Linked DNA regions of Homo sapiens: region 2 is linked to region 1. The links come from fine-mapping of genetic effects on plasma protein levels. A gene starts in region 1. The other region holds a variant in brackets. All regions are shown on one strand. Distances are between the middles of the regions. Region 1 holds the start of SELP (selectin P). Region 2 overlaps SELP (selectin P).

Region 1 (16,454 bases):
GTGTGTGTATGTGTCATGCCACAGTGATGGATGATGTAGGCTGCATGGGACTGTGTGGAGTTGTGTATGTATGCGTGTGTCATGCCCCAGTGATGGATGATGTAGGGTGCATGGGACAGTGTGGGGTTCTGTGTGTGTGTGTGTGTGTGTGTGTGTGTGTCATGCCACAGTGATGGATAATGTAGGGTGGATGGGACAGTGTGGGGTTCTGTGTGTATGTGTGTGTCATGCCACAGTGACGGATGATGTAGGGTGCATGGGATGGTGTGGAGTTGTGTGTGTGTGTGTGTGTGTGTGTGTCACACCCCAGTGATGAGATGTAGGGTGCATGGGACTGTGTGGGGTTGTGTGTGTGTTCGTGTGTCATGCCCCAGTGATGGATGATGTAGGGTGCATGGGATGGTGTGGAGTTGTGTGTGTGTGTGTTTGTGTCACACCCCAGTGATGGATGATGTAGGGTGCATGGGACTGTGTGGTGTTGTGTGTGTGTTCATGTATCATGTCCTGGTGATGGATGATGTAGGGTGCATGGGACAGTGTGGGATTGTGTGTATGTGTGTGTCACACCCAGTGATGGATGATGTAGGGTGCATGGGACAGTGTGAGGTTGTGTGTGTGTGTGTGTGTGTGTGTGTGTGTGTGTCACGCCCAGTGATGGATTATGTAGGGTGCATGGGACAGTGTGGGGTTGTGTATGTGTCACGCCCAGTAGGGTGCATGGGACAGTGTGGGGTCATGTGTGTGCATGTGTTCATGCACTTTTGACTACAGCCTGACCAGATACCAGGGAGAACTCAACTCAAACCAGTTAATGTGTCCCAGAGAGTAGAGTTATCTCATAAGCCTAGAACTTTTCATCTGGGAGCTTCTGAATCTTGACTTTGGTAAGTAGGCATATTTTGTGTTCTTATAAGCTGCTGATCTCTGCAGGACCTATGATTAAACACTGAGAGTATCATAACGTTATGATTTACAGCTGTTTATTTGCACAAAATGCAGAGTGATCGATAACCCTTTGGTGCGAACCTAACCCCACTGCTTTCTCTGAATTGTGTTGTGTCACAAGCTGTTCTTCCTATCACATTTCAAAATGCACCATTCCAAATGCTGAAGTGGAATTCTTCAAACCAGGATAAGGCTGACTTCCCAAGGGGTTCACAAGCAAAGAGAGTGTTAATTAAATCTGTATTCAGATTCTCAACTTTCACATATATACTTTCTTAAAAACAATCTGCCTAAAATACACCTTTCTCCCACTTTATAAGAGAAAAATTATACCTTTTACTAATTTCTTATTTATTCCAGAGCTTTGCCTTTGGATATAAATACATTCGTATGCCAGAGATGATTCGAAATATTGGTATAGGTATTAAGAATTTGAATATTGTAAATGATATTGCAGCAAATCCGTTTTCAAGTCTAGTGATTTCCATTTATTTCCTTTCATCAGCTTTGAGGGAGCACCCGATTAAGTTGTCAAGTCTGACTAAATTTTGATAGTAAATCACTATATAATTTGGGGCATATAACTTGGAAGGACTTCAAGGAATTGAGACATTGCTATAATAAAACTTCTAATTCCATTTACTTATTCATATGAATGAAGTTTCTCAATGTTTAAATCCTTGAAAATGAAATATGGGAATAATATTGATGCCAAACTTGTCTAATTTTGTTGATAAGTAATATTCATTCATGGATATATGAACAAATGAGGGAAAGCTCCTCCTGTCTTAGAGATGAATCTTTAATAGCAATTTAAATATAAAGGTTTAAGTTACTTGTCAAAACTTGCAGTATATTTACTTTATTTAATTGTGTACTGAAAGTAGTTGTCATGCTAACTCAATAGAAAAGAAAAACATTTTAACACATAGAGACTTACAGTTGTAGAAAATTGAAATTTTATATTTTTATTTTGCAAAGAAGTATAATAATCAAGAAAATACTTTAAGCTTAAAATGTGTAATCTTAGGCTAAATACTGTAGAAGTGGGATAGAAATAACTATTCAAGGAGAGAAAAATGAATAATATAAAATTTCTTAAGAGCCTGCTTGTGGTCTTTTAAGTGATGAGGATTGCAGATCATGCTAGTACTTTATTCCATTGGATAAACTTTAAGAAATTATGTAACAATTTTATTTTTACAGTCTAATTTTTGTAATACACTGGAAAATCCAATCTTCTTTTGCTTTTAAAATTTGGGATAAAAAATTGTAGCTTTCCACTTAGAAAGGTGTAAGAGGTAACATAGTGTTCCAGGATATTTTTGGAGGTATAGGAGCAAAAATATTGCTGCTGAAGAGCACAACTCTGCAGCCTTCATGAAGGGGACCTGAGTGCTTGCCTTTGAACCTGGGCTTTGCTCTATTCAGACAGATTGCAGAAGGAGTGCAACGATTTTAAATTTAGTGGTACTCTTCCTGTGGAAGTGGTTTTCTCCCTGAACAGAGTATTTCTAGGGATTTCCCTGGCTTTGGGGCCAGCTCACAAGAGTGTGTAGGGCGAAGGAGTCGGTGAGGCTCCCAGTCTCCCATCACAGTGGCCAACCCTACCCACTGTTTCCTGCTTTGACTTGTTTGTTTAAACTTTTAAATAAGATTTGGTTTAAACAAAATTTCCAAAAAGAGATGTTTCCCATTTTAACCTGTTTGTTTGTTTGTTTGAACTTTTTTTAAGCAAAATTTCATCAGCAAATTCTCTACCACACAAGATAAAACAAAGTGAGAGAGAGCGAGACAACTTGTTTTAAACATTTGAAGGTTTTAGAGGACTGGTACAGTGCTTTTGATGAAGGCACAACATCTAAGAAAGGAAAATGCAAGTCAGTGTGCATCCCCTGCTTTAATCTGACATACTTTTCTGTTTCTATGCATCACCAAATACCAAGATTCACCTCTTACAGGTTATTTCAGAGCTATAGGAGAACATAAAGGTCACTTCCAAGCCAACTTAGCATTTATCTGCTGTTCTGCAGGAAGTCTTTCAGACTTCGAATGCCTAAGATGGGGCAGCCACCACTCCCCACCACTGAGACTCAGTGAGCGTAAATGATTTGCCCAAGCTTGCTCACATGAATGTGCATAGGGTTAACACAGTTATTCTTATTCTTCCAGGGCTTATGAATTTTGAAAATCTGATAAAAGCCGTGGTCAGATTTCTTCAAAACAAATGCATGCTTGCAGTAGTTTAGAGAATCTCAGATGGTTCATGACCTACTAAGTCTGTCCATGTTTAATGTGGCCCAAGTTCAAGATTCTGTGTTAACTGTAAGGCAACTGATAGGGATTTTGTGTGGAGGTATGGAGAATGGATGATGTTTAAAAATCTTCTTTGAGTAACAGTTTTCCTCTGAAACCTGCTTGGGGTGGGCAGGCCTTCTCATACCTGCTCCTACTCTGCATTATAGTCTGCAGGATGCTGCTCTGTCCTGTGTTACTAAGCAAGTTAAATACTAAAACAAGAGGAAATTCCTCTCTAGAAGCATCCACATGCTCTGCTAGTCTTTAATGTTCTCTGGAAGGCTGGTTCAACTGGAAGTTGCTGGAAAGGAGTCAGAGACTGGGTCATTAGAATAACATCCTGTGCCTGTGTAAGCCTTCATTAAGTACCATGATTATCTTTAATTTTACTTTAATAAAGAACTGGGCTGGTGCAGTGGCTCATGCCTCTAATCCCAGCACTTTGGGAGGCCAAGGTGGGCAGATCACTTGAGGTCAGGAGTTCGAGAACAGCCTGGCAACATGGTAAAACCTCGTCTCTACTAAAAATGCAAAAATTAGCCAGGCATAGTGGCACATGTCTGTAGTCCCAGCTACTTGGGAGGCTGAGGCAGGAGAATCGCTTGAACCCAGAAGGCAGAGGTGGCAGTGAGCCGAGACACTCCAGCCTTGGCAACAGAGTGAGACTCTTTCTCAAAAAACAAAACAAACAAACAAGCAAAAAAACTAATAATGATTGCAGGGTGAAGAGAAAAGCAGAGAGAAAGTGGAAGAAGCAAATGCCTTGACCTAACTTTTCACACAAGGAGGTACCAGAGGCTAGTAGGTGTCCCATGGCTTGCCACGTTCCAGGTGGCTTACAAAGTTGGCAAGAATAGTGCCACAGAAAGGAGATCTTGTTCTTTTTGTCTACATTGTAGACCACAGCTTTGTGCTTTTAGAAAGGCGGAATCAAACAATGTCCCTCCCTTGACCCTTTGTCCTCCTGCCCACATCTGCCTGTTTCTCTCCTTCCTCTTATAGCTAAACTTTCTTAACTTCCTTGCCTCCCCCTTACTCTCCAGCCCACTGCCCGACCATCCTATCAAAGTGTCCCTGCAAACTTCATTGCTGACATCCTCATTACCAAACCAAATGAAGACTTTCCACCCTTATCTTCCTTGACCTTTCTGTAGCAGTAAATACCACTACTTCCTTTTGCCTAAAATGCTTCCCTTAGCTCTTCTGTTGTTCTTCTGCTCTAATGTTTGAGAAACTTTTCTGAGTCTTCTTCTGAATCTACCTCAATCCTCTGCCTTCCCTTGCAGAGGTAAGTGTTTCTCTAGGTTCCCACCTCCATGGCCCTATTCTCTTCTCATTCTTCTGCTTTCCTGGGAAGTAAAGATGACCTCCTTATGGTCATCTGTTTCCAATGTCCTCTAATCAGCATCTCCGTTTCTGAATATTCTCTTGAGCAGGAGGTCCACAATTTAAATGCGCAACAAACATGTGAGCATACAGCTGAGGAAGCTACTGACAGAGGCTTCTCAAGGGCAAGGACTATTACTTACTCAGGTCTGAATCCCCAGCCATGGTAGGGCACATACTCAATACTCAATAAACATTTTATGGATAAATATATGAATGAATAATGGCAGAGGAATAACTGAAAGTAAGACAAAAATATGCTAAATAAGAAAATGTTGGAAAAATACATAATAATTATAACTGAATGCATTACTTTTACAGTAGTGATAATAGCTAAGTGAACAAATAAAATGGTGAAAACAGACATAATTCCAGTCCTCATAGAATGCACATTCTATTGGTAGAGAAGACAATGAAACAAATACTAATAACTACACAACAGTACTAAACAAGTAAACATGAAAAATATTAACAGAATATAGCCATAAGTGCTAGGTAGGAAATGAAACTTATGTGATAGAATGACTGTGTCACTATGTTGGTCAGGAACGTCAGGGAAGACCTCTTTAATGAGATAATGTTTAAGTGGAGAGAAGAATGACTGCAAGAAACCAGCCAGTGAGAAGCAGGAAGAAGAGCATTAAAGGAAGAAGAAAAAGCTATTTCAAAGGCCTTAAGGTGGAAGCAAACTGCAGTGTGTTCAAAGAACATGAAGACATTAGTGTGGCCAGAATGGAATGAGCAATGGAGAGAAAAATACGAGCCGGGGGTAGTGACAGATCACATCGGGCTTTGGGATCCAAAACAAGGGGATGAGATTTTATTCTAAGTGCAATGATAAGCCAACGGAAGCTGGGCACGGTGGCTCACATCTGTAATCCCAACACTTTATGAGGCCAAGGCAGGCAGATCCCTTGAGGTCAGAAGTTCAAGACCAGCCTTGCCAACATGGCGAAACCAACTCCACTAAAAAATACAAAAATTAGCTGGGCATGGTGGCGCATGCCTGTAATCCCAGCTACTCAGAAGGCTGAGACAGGAGAATCGCTTGAACCCAGGAGACAGAGGTTGCAGTGAGCTGAGATGGCACTACTGCACTCCAGCCTGCTGAAGATTGGGAGATCCTAGAGGTTAACTGAAAAGGTAGTTTGAGACCATATCTTGTGGGTCACAAATACCAGTTGGCAGAAGGGATACTTCTGAACAGAGAAGTATCATGAACACATGCACTTAATGGTGGTATGATTTTTTTTGTGGGGCTGGGGGACAGGGTCTTGCTCTGTTGCCCAGGCTGAAGTGCAGTGGCATGATCTGGGTTCACTGAAACCTCCACCTCCTGGCCTCAAGTGATCTTCCCATCTCAGCCTCCTGAGTAACTGGGACTACAGGCATGCATCACCACACCCGGCTAATTTTTTGTAGAGATAAGTTCTCACTATATTGCCCAGGCTGGCCTGGAGCCCCTGGGCTCAAGCAATACTTTTTCTTTGGCCTCCAAAAATGCTGATATTATAGGGGTGAGAGTAGTGCGATACTTTTTTTTTTTTAAATGAGTTACAATCAGGGAGATTGCACTGCAAAAGAAGAGGCTATTGCAATGGTCCCAGTGAGAGTTAAAGAGGGACAGGTTTGGTCTGGCATCAGTGGGAATGCAAATAGGGGAGGTGAATATGAGAGTTGTTGAGGATGCAGAACTATACAACTTGTTGGTAGCAAAGCCCAGATGTTACAAGCTATTACAGCTAATACATTAGTTCCCTTATGTTTCTGGACGGTGGTGGTGTTAGTGGTGTGGCACAGATATTGGTAGCCCAGCTTAGGGGTGGAAAAAGAAATACAGTGAGAAAAGAGGTTGTCTCTAAGCCAAAGAGCAAATTATGAATATAGACAAGAAGGGACCCAGGACATCAACACTTAGAATCCAAGCATATATTTAATTTAGACTACCAATTGCCATTATTTTGAGTAAAATATTAGCATTAAAAATAAAGTACGACACTTAAAATTTTTTAAAAAGTCTATTGGATCAGAGATGAGTTATATCTCTACAAATAGTGAGGATTTGCTCTGTATTTGACTTCATGAAGTTTCTGATTTACTTTTTAATCAAAAAGATTAGACACCTTGAAGACAATATAATGAATGTCATTTATAAAACCACTGTGTGCCTACTCTCTAGGTTTAGGTCCAGGGTTTTTTCTAAACACAGTTTTTTATGTAGTAAGTCATTTTGATTTTTGAGGATTTGATCAATAAGCTTCTACTTAAAGATCTCTGAAGATGCACATTCTAAGAGCTGGTGGCTAGCCCAGGAGAGTCTGAACTATTTTAGTTGCATTTTGAAAAACAGGTAATGAAAAGAAGAGTAAGGACTGGAAGCCACATAAGGTGGTTAAAAGGTATAAATGGACGAAAATCCAGACCTGCTCCTTAGCCCACTAAAACTTTTTTTTTGTTTTGTTTTTGAGACAAGTCTTGCTCTGTCACCCAGGCTGGAGTTCAGTGGTGTGATCTCAACTCACTGCCACCTCCACCTCCTGGGTTCAAGAGTTTGTCCTGCCTCAGCCTCCTGAGTAGCTGGGATTACAGGCACATGCCAACATGCCCAGCCAGTTTTTGTAAGTTTAGTAAATATGGTGTTTCACCATGTTGGCCAGGCTGCTCTTGAACTCTCGACTTCAAGTGATCTATGCGCCTCGGCCTCCCAAAGTGCTGGGATTACAGGCATGAGCCACTGAGCCCGGCCATAGCCCGCTAAAACTTTGACAAACATCAGTGCAATTTAACTATAAGTTCCCAATCAAGAGCTACTCCTCTGAGATCTATCTGATTGAAAATACCCCACCAGAAAAACCTTATCCTCATTTTCTCAGGTCCTAAAAGTTAATTAAAGCCACTCTCTGAACTTGAAGCAAAATTTACACAGGCAGTTTGAGGTTTCTGAATCTTTGGGGCCAAATGTGCTCAGAGGAAAAGGAAGAGGTCTTGTCTTTGAAATATTAAAAACCATTCCAGGGCTGGGGCCTTAGCACTTCGCTGTAGAGCTCAAGCCTAATTTCAGGGTACCAAGAGAGGGGCTTCTGAACATAAAGCCCAGGAGGCAATCGAGAAGGGTTCTTACCCTGGGATCCACATGGAGGTCTGGGAACCTCCTGTGGTTGTCTCTAAAGGTTGGTGTTTATGTCGATGTTTTTGCTTTCATCTGGGAAAGACAAGTTGTAACTTTCATCAAAATCTCAAAGAACTCTCTGATCCAATAAGTTCATACCTTTGAAATAGAGGAGGATGCCAAGGAGAGTAGAAGGAAGAGAGGAATAACTGCTCATTTAAGTTAACCAATTCAGAAGTATGACATGCAAAAAGACAGGACAAAAGTAATTCATATCCTTAGGTCATTGTGGTTCAAACTTAAGACAGGCTCAAACTCCTTCCTCTTCTCTTTATCATACTCTTATTCCTGTTTTCCCCAACACAGAAACCCACATTATAAGTACTTGAAAAGTGTGCTATAGTAAAGCAAAGCAGTAGGATGAATCAGGTGTATGCGGTACTTTTTTCTGGAGTCCCACAGAAAGGTGCTCAAAAACAGAGACCTGCCTGGTTCCTCCATAGCCACAGACTGCAGGATTTCGGACCCTGGGACTATGTGGGATACTCTTGGAAAGTCTGAGGAAAATTGGAAGTAGCTTAACCATGTGCATTTTATCTAGGTGCATATAACATTGCTGAGTTCAAAATGCCTAGCTATCCTTGGATCTTCCCTGAATTAGAAGTAGCCTAACCACGTGCATCTTATCCATGAGCATATAACATTGCTGAGTTCAAAATGCCTAGCTATCCTTGGATCTTCCCTGAATCCTAAACCCCACTATTCCTAAGAATTTTCTTTTTATTGTAACAATAATGGCTAACATTTACTAATCACTTACTATGTGTCAGGCTCAGATCTGGATGCTTTTCAGCAAAATCTTATTTAATCCTCATGATGAAACTATAGAGTATTATTACTATATCCATTTTATAGAAGAAGAAACTGAGTCATTAACAAGATTGAGTCTTAGGGCAGAAAAGGAAACTATGTGGATATTCCAGATCAGTCCCAGAAGATTCATAGGCTCACAGAAAGAAATGGGAGGGATGGGGATGAGAAACTATTCAATTGTAAGCTTGTCCCAGGGCACCTACCCAGTCTTCCATTTATTCCATCATTTATCCCAGAGAGAAGTACAGTCTTGGAAAATGGGGTGACAGGTTTACCATGATCTATTCTCAGAGAGCCCCTATAAATTCTAGTAGGAGGAACAGCAGCTGCGGAGCCAGAGGACAGGCCCCAGATCCCAACATCATGTAGCCTAACAGTGAAGCTTAGATAAAACACAGCCTCTGTAAACCACGATGGCTTTATTTGTAAAATAGAAATAGCAACCTCAACTCACAAGGGTGTTGGGAGGGTCAAAGTGGACAGCAAGTTTAAAAGTACTCACAAAATCTAATAGGCAATTCAACATAAAACTCCATGGCTATCGCTGTTCCTCACTTTCTGAACCTTTACCTGCCTGACTTTACTCCATACCACTCCAACTCACTTCAACCACTTCCCATGCAGAAAAAAATAAACTCACCATCTCCTCTGTGACTCTGCTGGTTTTCTGCCTTCTGCCCAACCCAGACTGCTTACAGTCTCACTGCCTCCCCTCAGTGTCAGGCTGTTTAGAAAAACAACTTCCTATTCACATTCCAGAAACTCACCACAGCCCTTCCCATGAAGTTAGAATGTTGATAATGCAAGAGTAATGTTGGCAGCTTAGAAATAGTGGTTGCCAAGAGGCAAGGGGTCACCCCCTTCCATGGAAGATGGTCTGGAGGCAGGCGCAAGGTGAATTACTCCTGGATATCCCAGGCTGAGCAATGTGGGAACAGTACACACACAAAGGTTTCCTTGGATTATGATATAAGCTCCAATTTAAAGTAGTACATTTGGAAAACATGCTTTGAATTAATTACAATGTGATTTTCCAGTGCCCATTTTCCAGTAATTATGACATGTCAGTGAATGTTTACTATTCCGGCAGCCTTCTGAGGGAAAGAAGCAAAATTAGTAGCACAAAAAAAAATAGAGAGAAATGGAAAAAGCCACTAACAGTTTTCTGGCGCTTGGGAAATTTTATTGGTAAGTTTCAAAATGACGTATTAAATAGACATAGGTCATGTGAAAGGAATTCTGCTTCTTATATCAGAAATAAAAAGGTATACAAATAGATACCTTTTTATTTTCCTCTTCCCATGGGATGTGTAGGACCAAAAAGCTGTTGGCATAGTGGTTAAGACTTCAGCTGTGCTGTTAAACTGCCCGAGACCCATCCTGGCTCCTCTTCTGGCTATCTACTGGGCAAACTACTTAAGCTCTCTATGCCTCTGTTTCCTCAACTGTAAAACAGAATAACAGAACTTGCCTCACCGGGTTGTTGTAGGATGAAATGAGTTAATATGTACAGAGTGATTGAAATGACACTTGGCCCACAATTGATGCTCAACAAATGTTAGTGATTATTATTACTTTTCAGATTGATCTCAGACAGCAAAATCAAGTATCAAGTATTTAGTTTCAAGTCAGAAAGCCATAACTCCTATTTATACTCTTGGAATTCTATTGTACAGTAGTAGGTATTATTCTTCATTCACTTCATGATGGTTACAGCTTGTAAATAGGCATCTCATGGATAAATTTAAAATGGAATGAAGTAGAAACATTGGAAGAAAGTCTAAAGGTAAAGATGAATTAGGGTATATAAGGCTGCATTTGCACGTTGGAATTTGGGACCAAGAAGAAAAAATTAATTATATAGTAGAAGTAGAAAAGATGGTGAAGGAAATGCTGTTGAAGGAATGACTGTAGGGGAATAAGGGAAACTTAGAGAGAGGAAAAAATGAGGAACTTCTTGGCAGCATGATGCAGTTCAGAGTCCAGACCCTAGAGTCAGACTGCCTGGCTCCACCACCTACCAGCTGTGTTGGGCGTTACTAATCTCCCTATAACTCAGTTTCCTCAGTGATGTGGTTTGGCTGTGTCCCCACCCAAATCTCATCTGGAATTGTAGCTCCCATAATTCCCACAGGTTGTGGGAGGCACCTGGTAGATCATTGAATCATGGGGGTGGTTTCCCCCATACTGTTCTCATGGTAGTGAATAAGTCGCATGAGAGCTGATGGTTTTATAAGGGGAAACCCCTTTTGTTTGGTTCTCATTTCTCTCTCTTCCCTGCTGCCATGTAAGACGTGTCTTTTGCTTTCTACCATGATTGTGAGGACTCCCCATCCACGTGGAACTGTGAGTCCATTAAACCTTTTTTTTTTTAATAAGTTATCCAGTCTCGGGTATGTCTCTATCAGCATCATGAGAACAGAATAATACACTCAGCAATGTGAATAATAAGGATAATAATCACCAAATACATAGACATGTAAGGACCATTAAATGAATTTAATGTGTTTGGAACAATACCTATCACGCTGTTAAGTGTAAGTTTAAGTGTTGGCTATTATTCTATAAGACTTGCCTCCATGTCTTTCTGTTCTTACTTTCACTCACCAGCCCCTCTTTTTGGCATTGCCTCATGTTAGAAAAAATATATATAGTCTCAGATGGGGATGAGGAAGTGTGGTATGTAGACTAGTAGGTTCTTTTTTTGAGACAGGGTCTCACTCTGCGGCCCAGGCTGGAGTGCAGTGGCATGATTACTGCTTGCTCCAGCCTTGACCTCCTGGGCTCAAGCAATTCTCCCACCTCAGCCTCCTGAGTAGCTGGGACTATAGATGTGTGCCATCACTACTGGCTAATTAAAAAAAAAAATCTCTAGAGATAGGGTCTCTCTATATTTCCCAGGCTGGTCTTGAATTCCTGGGCTCAAGTGATCCTTTCACCTCAGCCTCCCAAAATGTTGGGATTACAGGCATGAGCCACCATGCCCAGCCTGGTAGTTTCTTATTTATAATAAGTTTGATATTAATAAGTTCAATTGATCATATGTTTTTAAGTTTGATATTGTTAAATTTTAGTGAATATAAGGAAAGCATAAAAAGATTCCTATGCAGGTGACATTAGCAAGATGGTGGAGTAGGAGATGTCAGCCTTATGCCCCAACAAAAAAACAAACATAGACAGTTATACACAAACCAAAATAGCCCTCACAAGGGTGGGGAGTTGGGGGATGGGGCTCAAGAGCCTGTTAAAGAATTTGGAACAACACAATGGAGAAAAGAAAGAATATCCATGTAGAAGAATCACCGGTGAGACTGGCATATATGAGACACCAGGAGATAGCTACGAATAAAGAAATTTGTAGGCTATCTGTGTCAGTCATGTGACACAGAGCCACTGAGGCCCCCAGTGTCCTGCTCCACAGAGGACACTGGCATCTTTTATCCAACAGCCATTCCCATAGCAGGATGCTAAAAAGGGAAACACAGTTGCACTACCCCTCACACCCCCTCACCAAGAAGCAGCTATTGTTGCACTGCCCCAGGACTGGGGCCAGGGTTACCACCTCTCACAAGTCTATGTGTGTTCCTGATCCCCAAAAGTTGTGGCTGCTCTACAGATATTCACACTCTGGACTGTGGCTCTGTGGCTGCAGTGCACCTCCTCATGTCTCAGACACTGGAGTCACTGCTGTTGTGAACTAGATCTCACCCTGGGACCCCAAGCCAAGTTCTCTCTGTGAAAGTCTTTGCTCCAGACACTAGTTCAGCCACTGTAGAAAGGTAACCCATATTCTCAACTCCAGAGCTGCTGTAGTAATGTGCACACCTGCGCTCCAGACCCTGTCTCTGAGGCTGTACTACACACACCCACACCTCCAACACCAGAGCCACCACTATAGTGAGCTAGTGAACACCCTGGGTCCTAGAGTCAAGGTTTCTCTGTGCCTGTCCATGCTCTAGTCACCAGCTCAGCCACCAAGGAGAGCTAGCCCACACCCTGGATCCTGGAGCCACTGTAGCTCTGCGTATGCATGCAGTAAAGTCCCTGGCTCCTTAGCTGCTTTATAAGTACCTGCATTTTACACACCATTATCAATGTGATAGTAAGTATGCCTGTGCCTTGGGCACTGGTACCATTGCTACAATTGAATCTGGTGCTGTGGTCCCTCCATGCATGCCCATGCTTCAGGCCTTGGCTCTTGGCCACTCCATGGGCACTGTTCATCAGACACCAGTGTCACCACCACCAGGAGCAGGCCTGCAAGTTAGACCTAATTCCAAGAGGGATGTCCTCAGTCATGACTTCCCAGGTGGGGAAAAAAAGAGATATGGAGGACTTGTCACAATTGAAAACCTCAACAGCCTCATTGCCACTGTAGATACCCACAGTGTTGGCCTCTAAGGATCCCTGTAGTATTCACTAACACCAACCTCAGCTGACAGATCTGCATGGAGACCACACAGCTTTGCCCCTACTGAAGTCAGAACTTTTGCATCCCACCCAGCCAGCATCCTCGCATTATTCCACATAAGAAGGTATTTCTCCACCAAAGTCAGCCCATACAGCCTGAAATTGGGGCAGATCCACCAGATGCTCAGACAGCAGTGTAAGGCAGCAAGAAACATGAAAACCCAAATTAAAATATCACCACCTAAGAAACACAATAATTTCCCAGTAGCTGACCCAAAAGAAATGGAGTACTACAAATGGCCTGACAATGGATTCAAGATAATTGTTTTTAAAGAAGCTCAGTTACTTTGAAGCAAACACAGAGAAACAATTTGGTGAAATCAGAGAAACAATAAATGCACAACATAAGAAATGTAACAGAAAGATTGAAATCATAAAAGAAATTGGAGCTGAAAAATATAATGAATGAAGTGAGAAATGCAGTAGAAATCACCAGTAGCAGACTTGATCAAGCAGAAGAAAGAATCTGTGAACTGAAGACAGGTTTTTGAAAATATACAGTGAGAGGAGAAAAAAGAATGAAAAGAAATGATGAAAGCCTACAAGATTTATGGGACAGCATCAAGAGAGCTAACATTCAGCCAGACTCAGTGGCTCATGCCATAATCCCAGCGCTTTGGGAGGCCAAGGTGAGTGGATCACCTGAGGTCAGGAGTCAAGACCAGCCTGACCAACATGGTGAAACCCAGTCTCTACTAAAAATACAAAAAAATTAGCCAGGGATTGTGGCACATGCCTGTAATCCCAGCTACTGGGGAGACTGAGGCAGCAGAATCTCTTCAACCTAGAAGGCAAAGGTTGCAGTGAGCTGAGATCATGCCACTGCACTCCAGCCTGGGTGACAGAGTGAGACTGCATCTCAAAAAATAAAAACAAAAATTAAATTAAAAATTAAAAAAGAGAGCTAATGTTCACATTACAGTAGTTTAAGAAGGAGAAAATAGAGGAAAAGGGGGTCAGAAAGCATATTTAAAGATTGCTAGCTGAAAATTTCCCAAATCTGAAATAAAATATTAATATTCAGGTACAGGAAGCTTAAAAATCTCCAGTCAGGTTCAATCCAAAAAAGACTACACCAAGACATAATAATCAAACTATCAAAAATCAAAGACAAAGACAGGATCCTAAAATCAGCAAGAGAAAAGAAGCATATCACAGACAAGAATTGCAATAAGGCTATCACAAGATTTCTCAGCAGAATGCTTCTAGGCCCAGAGAGAGTGAGATGATATATTCAAAGTGTTGAAAGAGAAAAAACTGCCAACCAAGAGTCCCATCCTTCAGAAATAAAGAAGAGATAAAGACTTTCCCAAACAAATAAAAGCTGAGGTAGTTCATCAACACGAGACCTGCCTTACAAGAAATGTTAAAGGGAATTCTTCAAGCTGAAAGAAAGGGATGTTAATTAATTACATGAAAATCTACGAAAGTATAAAAGTCACAGGTAAAAATAAAAATACAGTCAAATTCAGAATTTTCCAATATTATAATTGTGCTGTATAAATCACTTATATCTTTAGAATGAAGGTTAAAAGACAAAACTATTAAAAATAATTATAACCACAATAAGTTAACAGATACACAATATAAAAGATGTAAATTATAACATCAAAAGCATAAAGTCTGAAAAATATTAAAAACCTATAAAATGTGGAGGGAGAGTAAAAGTGTGGAGTTTTTTTATCCTTGAAGTTAAATTTTATCAGCTTAAAATAGCCTGTTATAACTATTATATGTTTTATCTAAGTCTCACAGTAACTACAAAGCAACAACATCACATTAAAAGGATTATTCACCATGATCATGTGTAATTTACCCCTGGGATGCAAGGATGGTTCAACATAAGAAAATCTATAAATGTGATACACACATTAGCAGAATGAAGGACAAAAGCCATATAATCATCTCAATATATGCAGAAAAAGCATTTGACAAATTTTACCATAATTTTATGATAACAATTGGTAAAGAAGGAATAGTGCCCTCAGGCAATAGGAAGGAATAATACCCTCAGGTGTGGAAAGAAAGTAACTTCAACAAAATAAAGGCCATATACATAAGCCCACAGCTAACATTATAGTCAATAGTGAAAGGTTGAAAGCTTTTCCTGTAAGATCAGGAGCAAGGCAAGGATATTCACTTTTGCCACTTCTATGCAGCACAGTACTGGAAATCCAAGCCAGAGTAATTGGGCAAGAGAAAGAAATAAAAGACATCCAAATCACAAGAACTTGTCTATGATTTCAGACAACATGATCTTATATATAGAAAACCCTAAAACATGATCTTATATGTAGAAAACCCTAAAGACTTCATAAAAAAAAACTTTTAGAACTAATAAATGAATTTAGTATAGTTACAGGATACAAAATCAACATGCAAAAATCAGCAGTGTTTCTCATACACTAACAACAAACTATCTGAAAAAGAAATTAAGAAAATAATCTCATTATACCAGCTACAAAAAAACACACTTAGGAATAAATTTAACCAAAAAGATAAAAGATCTATATACTGAAAACCATGAAACAAATTGAAGAAGACAAAGGAATTGAAAGATATCCCATATTTATGAATTTGAAAAATTAATATTGTTAAAATGTCTATACTACCCAAAGCAGTCTGCAGATTCAATGTAATTCCTATCAAAATTTCAATGGCATTTTTCAGAGAAATAAAAAATAACAATCTTGAAATTCATATAGAACCACAAAAAAATCCTGAATAGCCAAAGCAATCTTAAGCAAAAAGAACAAAGCTAGAAGCAGCACACTGCCTGATTTCAAAATATACTACAAAGCTATAGTAATTCAAACAGCATACTGGCATAAAAATAGATACTTAGACCAATGAAACATAGTAGAAAGATAAGGAATAGATTCATGCATTTACAGTCAATTGATTTTTGATAAAGATGCCAAGAACATTCAATGGTGAAAGGAGGGTCTCTTTAATAAATGATATTGGGAAAACTGGATATCTATATAAAGAAGCTTGAAATTGGATTCTTGTCTCACATACATAAATCAAAGGAAAATGGATTAAAGACTTAAATATAAGTCCTGAAACTATAAAACGATTAGAAGAAAACACACATAAAAAGCTCCATGACAGCTTGCAGTGAGCCGAGATCACGCCACTGCACTCCAGCCTGGGCGACAGAGCAAGACTCCGTCTCAAAAAAAAAAAAAAAAAAAAAGCTCCATGACATTAATCTTGGCAACGACTTTGTATATGACCACAAAAGCACAGGCAACAAAAGCAAAAATAAACAAATGGGATAACTTCAAACTAAAAAGCTTTTTCCAAAGCAAAGGAAACAATTGACAGAGTGAAGAGACAACCTATGGAGCTGAAGAAAATATTTACAAAC
Region 2 (7,964 bases), 39 kb before region 1:
CCTCTGGCTCTCACTCCCTCCGCTTTTTCTGGGGCTTTTCCTGGCAGGGGTTTGGTGAGATCACAGCTCCCAGTGACCAGAGGTATTAGGGAGAGCAACCAAACTAGTGACTGTTTTACTGCAGGTGAAGAAGGGGCAGAGATCAGAGGCTCTAGCAGGCGGGACAATGCCCAGGGATTCATGAGCCGGACAAAGCTGTATCCCTCCATTTCCACCTGCCAACACCACGGAAGCAGTCGTCCGTTACCACTGACCTGAGGCCTGCCTGGGTCCAAGCTCACACTTGGAGAACCTTCTGTGCAGTGCAGTGGCACCCAACCACCTTAAGCAGATGGCTCCCCTTTTAATCTGAGGAAAAGAGTATTGTGCCCTGTTACTGGGCACTGAAACACTATTTTCAAGTGGTGAAGAAGCAGGGAACAAACACATGGACAAGGCCTACTGCTCTGAATCGCCTTCCTGGCCTCTATCAAGGCACAGTTCTGCCTTGATAAGGGCCTGTCGCCAGCTAAGCTGCAGCATAGCAGCGGGCTTGAAGAGCTTGGCTGAAAAAAATCAGTTGTCCAGATTTCAGTTTCACTTACTAGCTGTGTTGTCTTGGGCAAGTTACTGTACCTCTCTGTTCAGTTTTGACATCTGTGAAATAAGGATGACAATAATAATTTTTCCTGATAGGGTATGTTGGGAGGATAAAATGCTACTGTAAACTATAGTTCCAGCACTTAACACACAGAGGCTAGGCGCAGTGGCTCACGCCTGTAATCCCAGTACTTTGGGAGGCCAAGGCGGGTGAATCACCTGAGGTCAGGAGTTCAAGACCAGCCTGGCCAACATGGTGAAACCCTTCTCTACTAAAAATATAAAAAATTAGCCGGGCGTTGTGGTGGACACCTGTAATCCCACCTACTCGAGAGATTGAGGCAAGAGAATTGCTTGAACCTGGAAGGTGGAGTTTGCAGTGAGCTGATATCATGCCATTTTACTCCAGCCTGGGCAACGAGAGCAAAACTCCATCAAAAAAAAAAAAGAAAGAAAGAAAAAGAAAGAAAGAGAAAAAGAGAGAAAGAAGGAATCACAAATTTATTATTATGATCATATTTTCCTGTCTCCAGGACCCCTTGTATTCTTGTTTTTCTTGAAGGATCTGACTGTTTCACAGCACCTTAAATCTTACTTTGCTATTGATAGAGAATCTGCGAATTATATTGTCTGAGGCATCATAATGACTTGTCCTGGGTTCCCTGTATCTGCATGGCTCCAGGTTTCTGTCTTATGCTTTATGCATTCAGTACATTCAATAAATTGTAATCTGGCACCTCACATGAGGTCTCTGTTAATGATATCAGGCTCATCAACAGCCTCTTCCTCCCTCCCCACTCCCCCCAATATTCTGTCTTTTCTCCTGTGCTGATATTATTGCACCAACTTAGAATGCCCATTTTCTTCCTCTTTGCTGGGCCATTCTTTACAGTCCAGAGTTCTGCCTATCTCCCAGATTCTGGGCTCAAATTGGCTTTTCCATTTTATGAACTATTACAACACTATTCAAATTATATAATCATGTTAATTACCTTTTGTTATTCCATGCAGGTATCTATTGTCTCCCTAACTGAACAGTTGCTTACACTTCTTTATCTACAATATTATCAGTGTCTCCCAAAGTTGGCAGACCATCAGAATTCCCAGGGGAACTTTTACAAAATGTAGATTCTGACTCAGGAAACAGGGTTGAGACCAAAGTCCTAGAACACCTAGCCTACTGATTGACATTTAAATAAGCAGTCAGAGATGCTACTGGCAGTGTATCAGAGAAACGTTTTGAAAGCACTGTGTCCCTAAATCCCAAGGTTACTACCAGAATTGTTGCAACATTATTGTAACCTTTGAGTAGGCTGCTTTTTTATTTGCATGTTTGCTTATGTATATACAGTGTACATGACATATTTATTTAATTACATTTTACAGAGACAAGATGACTACTATAATTTTTGGCTCTCTATTTTTTTTAACATCAGTTCCAGATAAATACTATATAACTTTCAATGACCTATTTATTAAACATGGGATTTAAAGAACATGTAAAACACATTTGTTCTTCCCTGTAAAATATTAAGGTGATGAAGAATTTTTCCATTTCTCTGATTTTCTCTTGCAGTGTAGGGTGTGCGATACATATTTGCTGACTGAATGAATGGTTGAGGTGTAAATAGGACAACCATAATTGTGTGTTATTACACTGATGGTAAACAATGTGATGTATACAGACCTTACTGAACAAACCATAAAATAGAGGAACACGGCATTTGGGGAAAATTCTTTTAATTACGCATTTGAATATTGGTCTTTGGGTCATTTGAGGGACAGTGACTGGTGGCAGGAAGGTCCACGGTGACATGTGGCCTTCTAGCTTGATTCTTGGCCTTCTGCAGCCTCTGGTGCCATCCAGAGGACTCTCTGGAAGCCTCAGAGCAGAGGTCCAAGAGGCCTCATCAACAGCAACCACTGGAGACTCCAGAAGATGCTACAGGAATTTCTTCCAATTAGAGATGCCACCTGCTTTCCAACAAAGTGGAGAAAACCTTCCTTCAATCAAAAAATAAAGAGGTATTTTTATTTCTCCACAGTCTGGTCTTCTTGTGAGTCAGATGCTCCAGTCTCTTTGGTTCACTGGTATTTCAAGTAACAGGTGAGTCAAAGCACAGAGACTACTGCAGAAACATTTGCTCCTGGCTTCTGTGGCTTGTGTTACAGGAAGAGAAGAGGTGGGACAGGAAGGGGTGGTAGGTTGAGAATTTGAGATTGTACCACAATCCCAAACTCAGGAAACAGGGTTGGTCCAGAGCGGGTCCAACAGGCTGGTCCAGAGCTAATCTAAGGTAATTCCATGTCTTTGATTCATGGGTGTTTATGGAAACCTGCAGCAAATGCATTATAGTTAAGTCCAGTGTAGCAGGAAACTTGATGTTCACAACAGGATCATATGGAGGCTGAATGAGGAGACCAGGAAAAGGACAGGTCTCTGGAAATGAGACCAAAGAAATTTAAATAATTATCATTTCCTTAAAAAAATAAAAGAAAGAAAAAAATTGCTCATCATATCTACACCCTGAGGCGCAGCATAATCTTTTCTTTCTAGATTTCGAATATTCTGCCATTCAGGCTTTTTGTAGGACACTCAACTACCCACTTTTTGGGAGAGGGATAGCATCAGATTATTTTTGTTTTTCCAGCAGGTAGCATAGGGAATTGACTCCATAACAGTTCGTAAACATTTTTCAGCAGTCCTGACTTCTGCTTTGCAGGCAAGGCCACATCATCACCACCTAGCAGTTAATAATGGAAATGTTACACATCCTGAAATAAGTTATGTCTTGTTAGGACATTTCTGTCCTGGAGGAAATGAAAATCCTTTTGTGAACTCTTTTGTAACTCCATTGTCATACCTGTGTCCTACTGCCAACACAATTTCCTTCATGCCTGAAAATTTAATACATACTTAAAATTTAATATATGATTATGTAAAGAAAAGTTAAGCTTTATAGTCTTCCATTTTTCCCTAGTGTTCTATTTCCTTCAAAAATATCTTTATAGGGATCTTACCTTAAGGACTCGGGTCAAATGCAGCGTTTGTAAAAACTCCATATGTTCCTAGGTGGCTAAAGAACAGAAACACAAGGATGGCAACAATATACTGCTTAGTTCTCGACAACACAGTCCAACACATAGTATTTCCAGAAACCACAAATTACCATCCACCCTTGGAATTCTGCTTTAGAAAGGAAAGAAAAATAAATGCCAAAGAAATATTCGATATCCCACTTACCAGCTCTGGGTAATTTGCATTGCATTTTGCACCCACACTAAGTTATTGTTCATGCTTTATGTACTGAATACCTGTTATACCCTCTAAGTTGCTGCAACCTCTTCTAGGTGACAAGAGGTAGTTACAAAATTCTTGGCATTAACACTTGATAATCTAACGATAGTTTTCAAAGGGTGCAATATGACCCCTAGGGGTGTTTTTTGATTTTTATAACCAAGAGTTCTTCCGATATTGAGTGGGTATGGGGCAAGGGTGCTGGATGTCTACGACAATAGAGTTCATATAAGGATTTCCATGTCCTCCAGGACGGAAATGTCTTTAAAAGATATCCAGCACCCCTGCCTCCTGCCCACTCAATGTCAGTAGAACTCTTGTTCATTACAAAAATAAAAAAATACCCTTGGGGGCATACTGTCCCTTTTTGAAAACTATTGCTAGATTATAAATAGCAAGGGGTACAGGACACAAAAGAATTGTCCAACATCCCACATAACTTTGGAATATCTGCTCGATATTCATACAGGTTAAAAATCTCTGAGCCTGGAACTCAAGCACTTTACATGTAAATATTAAGCATTTTTTTGCATCTTTAAAATGCAATTGCCATATGAATCAAAGGACAATTATCACAGGTTTTCAGACTCTTTACCGGAGTTGTTCACCATGTTGAAAAATTAGGCTGGTGTTGGCCACAGTTCTAATGCTCTTTGAGTCACTAATACAACATTCCCCCATCAGTCCACCTGCGTGGGCGTTGCTTTCCTAGTGATTCTGTGGAAGGTGCACGCTTCTGATGACCTCATTGCATCTACTGGCACAGCGCCTAAGTTTTTGCATCTTGTTTTTATTATAAATTACTTTTCATTTTATTCCTACTTTATATTTTAATTAGAATATTTGTTATCTGTGTATTTTACTTCAGAGTAGAAAAGAAGACATTGCAAAAGACATTGTAAAAAGGAGGCAGGCATTGCATGTAATCATTCTGACATATTACAGTGAATTATAAAGTTAAGGTAGCAAAATTTACTCAATCATAAAACATTTCTACCTTACCTGTGAGGATTCAAGGGGCATTTCCCATCATCTAAAATCAGCAAGAAGACAAGAATGAATGATTAAAAAAAAAAAACAAGATGAAAGAGAGGGTCATTAAGGATAGAAATTACTGGGGAAAACCAGTAGACTGATTTTCAGGAGGGCTCATTATAAGGGGAATATTGGGAACAGTTTCTCCCTGAAAGGTAGAAAGTGTTTTAGGCTAAATTAAACATTCGACAATATTTAACTCCAGAGTCCTGTCACTTTCTTCCTCCTTCCTTTCAGTAAATACATAAATCAATTTCTTTTGAGGGCATCTTGTGTCACTTGCCCTCAGCCCTTAGCTGAGCAAGCTAATCACATACATGAATCCAAACCAACAGAACAGTGGATGTTTTTCCTCCCTGGTAGCATATTTTTATCCAAATAACAGACTCTCATAGTTGAATTTTCAGCTATGGCTGCAGCATTTTCCTCTTATTTGGCCATAGAAAACTTCAAAGCCTAAAATCAAATTGGGAGAAGCTGAGGAAAAAAGCTCCCATCCCCAACAAATGAATGTATTTATTATTAAAAATATTGGGGCATGAGTGGCCATTTGTCCTTCTCCACTGTTAGAGGGTCCTCTGGAAATGTCTCAAAGTCAAAGAAAGGACTTGGGGGAAACATCAAGATTAGAGTGATTCCTACATGATCATAGAGATTAAGGTCTAGGAGCTCTTGCCTCTGCCTTCTGGGTTTGGTTGAGCAAGCACACATTTTGCATGGAGGGATTCACTGTAGCTCTCAGTACATCTCTTTGGTATTGAAGCAGAGTATTGACCTTTGTCTATTGTCTTAGCCACTCACAGGAGAGTATATGAAGGAAATTTGGAAAAACAGCCTCAATGTTTTGGTAGCATTGTAAATGGAGAAAGAATAAGAGTAAGGAACACGTGGTTTTGCCTCTGAGCAGTTAAGAATAGGTGTTGAGACCTATGTCAACAATAGAGAAATTCAATGAGATCTCTTTCAGATATTTTAACATAGCCACTTTCCATTACCTTGATTTGAGCAATTAATGGTCTCTCTGATGCCCCCAGTTACTTTCTATGAGGAGTGATGAAGAAGAGCCCCATTAGGTTATAAACAAAACTTTATGAACTTATAGGCAGGCTAAGTGTCTGGAGAAGATTGAGAAAGGATGTTTTAAACCTTAAGAGATGGGATGTTCCCATCTTTAATTCCTAGACTAAAGTTCTTTTTCTGATGAACAGTCTGATGAACACAGTTTCCCTTACAGAGAGTTTTCATCTATTTGGTCTTCTCTGTTTAAATCCTGCATCAACTTTACAAATTTTCAGGAGAAAAAGCAAATCTCTTAGCTTATCACACCAGGTCACCAATACAGGGGCAGCTTCTTCTGCCCCTAACTTCATCTCCTGCCTCCTCCATAATCCCCTTTTGATTCAGATGCACTGAACTGCGAAACATACCATCTTCTCATTGATTTTACACTTTCATGTCTTTCTACATGCCATTTTCTCTGATGGAACTCTATTTCCATTTTCCCCTTGGCTAAATGCCTCTCATTCTTCAAAGCTAAGCTTGAAAAAGGCTTTCTGACCTGCCAGTCTGGTTTAGGCATCCCTAGTCTATGTTCTAATAATACCTAGGTTGTATTTGTGTCCTAACACACTTACTACACTTCACTACCGGCACTGATTTCACCTGTCTCCCCTACTGGATTTTTCCTTCCTTAATATCAGAAACCATCATTATGAGTCTCACACTCTAACAGAGTTGATGAATAAATGACTGCTACATGAAGAAATGAGTGAAGTCAGGAAGCATAACACCTTTCTAATTAGCTTTAGTGATAGCCTAGGGTACTTAGACCAGAGGCCCCAAATGCAAAACTGCAAAGTAGCCTCATTTGAATTTTGGGAGAGAGCTTTTGAAAAATTCAGATTTCCACACCCACTACCAAGTCTCCCCATAGAAGGATCTATATTTTTAGGAAGTTCCCTAGGTGATTCTAATGGACAATCAGTTCTCAAGATCACTTATCTTGGCTTTATTTTCTTTTAATGCAAATGTTTTCCAACATGAACTACTGAAGTTGTGGTTTTTGCCTCCCCACCCTAAATTACATAAATCAATTTCTTTTGATTTATGTAACCAAGATGCAAAGAGAAGACTCTTTCCTATTTACCTTTTTGTCTGAAACGCTTTCTTAGCAAAGCCAGGAGCGTCCCACCCATTATCAGACCTAT[C/T]GTAGAAGCCACCGCTCCACCAAAGTAAGTCAGGGCTTCCTGGATAGTCAATGGTCCTGCTACAAAACAAACACACACACATGCAAGACATAAGAAGTGTATTATGCAAAAGACTAGTCTTTCTCTCCCAGAAAGTTTTCAAGAACTCTAAGATGTGCGATCAAGTAGGATCACCAAAGGTCCTGGGAATGCTGACAAGCTAACATGAAAGAAGATCTGGAATTCATAAATCCACTGCAACAGAATGGGAAGTGGGGCCTTATTTTATTCCTAAGGCTTAAATATAGACTGTAATTTCCAAAGGAATCAGGGTGAGGACCCAATAAAAGAAATTAAATTGTAGACACAAGAAGCCTATACATGTAAGTATGGGCAAATAAAATAAAAGTGGGGCCTTAATTTATTCCTAAGACTTAAATATAAACTGTAATTTCCAAAAGAATTAGGGTAAGGTCCCAATAAAAGAAATTAAATTGTAGACATAAGAAGCCTATACATGTAAGTTTAGGCAAATAAAATAAACTGTGCATAATTTTTTGGCAAAGATTCAGTTATGTAACAAAAGGCAGTCAGGACAAGCTATGAGGGGAAAAAATAGGGGGCTGAAATATACCTTGCAAACAGATGGAATTTAATTAAGGAAGATCTGCTAGGAGGTTTTTAGAGTTAGGTGGTAAGCAAAGGTCTTCTGAGATAATAAATTAGAAATCTGCATGAAATAACTCCCAGTTTAAAACATTTTGAAACTTCAAGGTCTGTTAAACAGAGATTATAACGAAGCAAAAGGTTTCATTTCACAAACTGAACACTGAAGAGGAGGGGTGATTACCTACACAGTCACTGGG

The links. PIP is the chance, under the fine-mapping model, that this variant and not a neighbour inherited with it causes the effect. Protein levels are from the aptamer-based SomaScan assay of Sun 2018.
Region 2: its variant is fine-mapped to the plasma level of the SELP protein (Sun 2018, PIP 0.95). The variant lies in the coding sequence of SELP. If it changes the protein, the assay may bind it differently, which can mimic a change of level.

What each region holds. Positions count from the first base shown.
Region 1 is chr1:169,620,821-169,637,274 of GRCh38, forward strand. It overlaps SELP (selectin P), which reads right to left and starts at 9,304. Exons shown (of 17, transcript NM_003005.4): 1 at 9,252-9,304. The coding sequence starts at 9,254.
Region 2 is chr1:169,586,547-169,594,510 of GRCh38, forward strand. SELP (selectin P) reads right to left here. Exons shown (of 17, transcript NM_003005.4): 14 at 7,059-7,178; 15 at 4,880-4,910; 16 at 3,601-3,656; 17 at 2,303-2,915. The coding sequence ends at 3,602. Among named protein-coding and RNA genes, the nearest start is that of F5, 4.0 kb to the left of the region's middle. RefSeq lists an enhancer at 1-410. The variant C/T (reference allele first, on the strand shown) is at 7,120.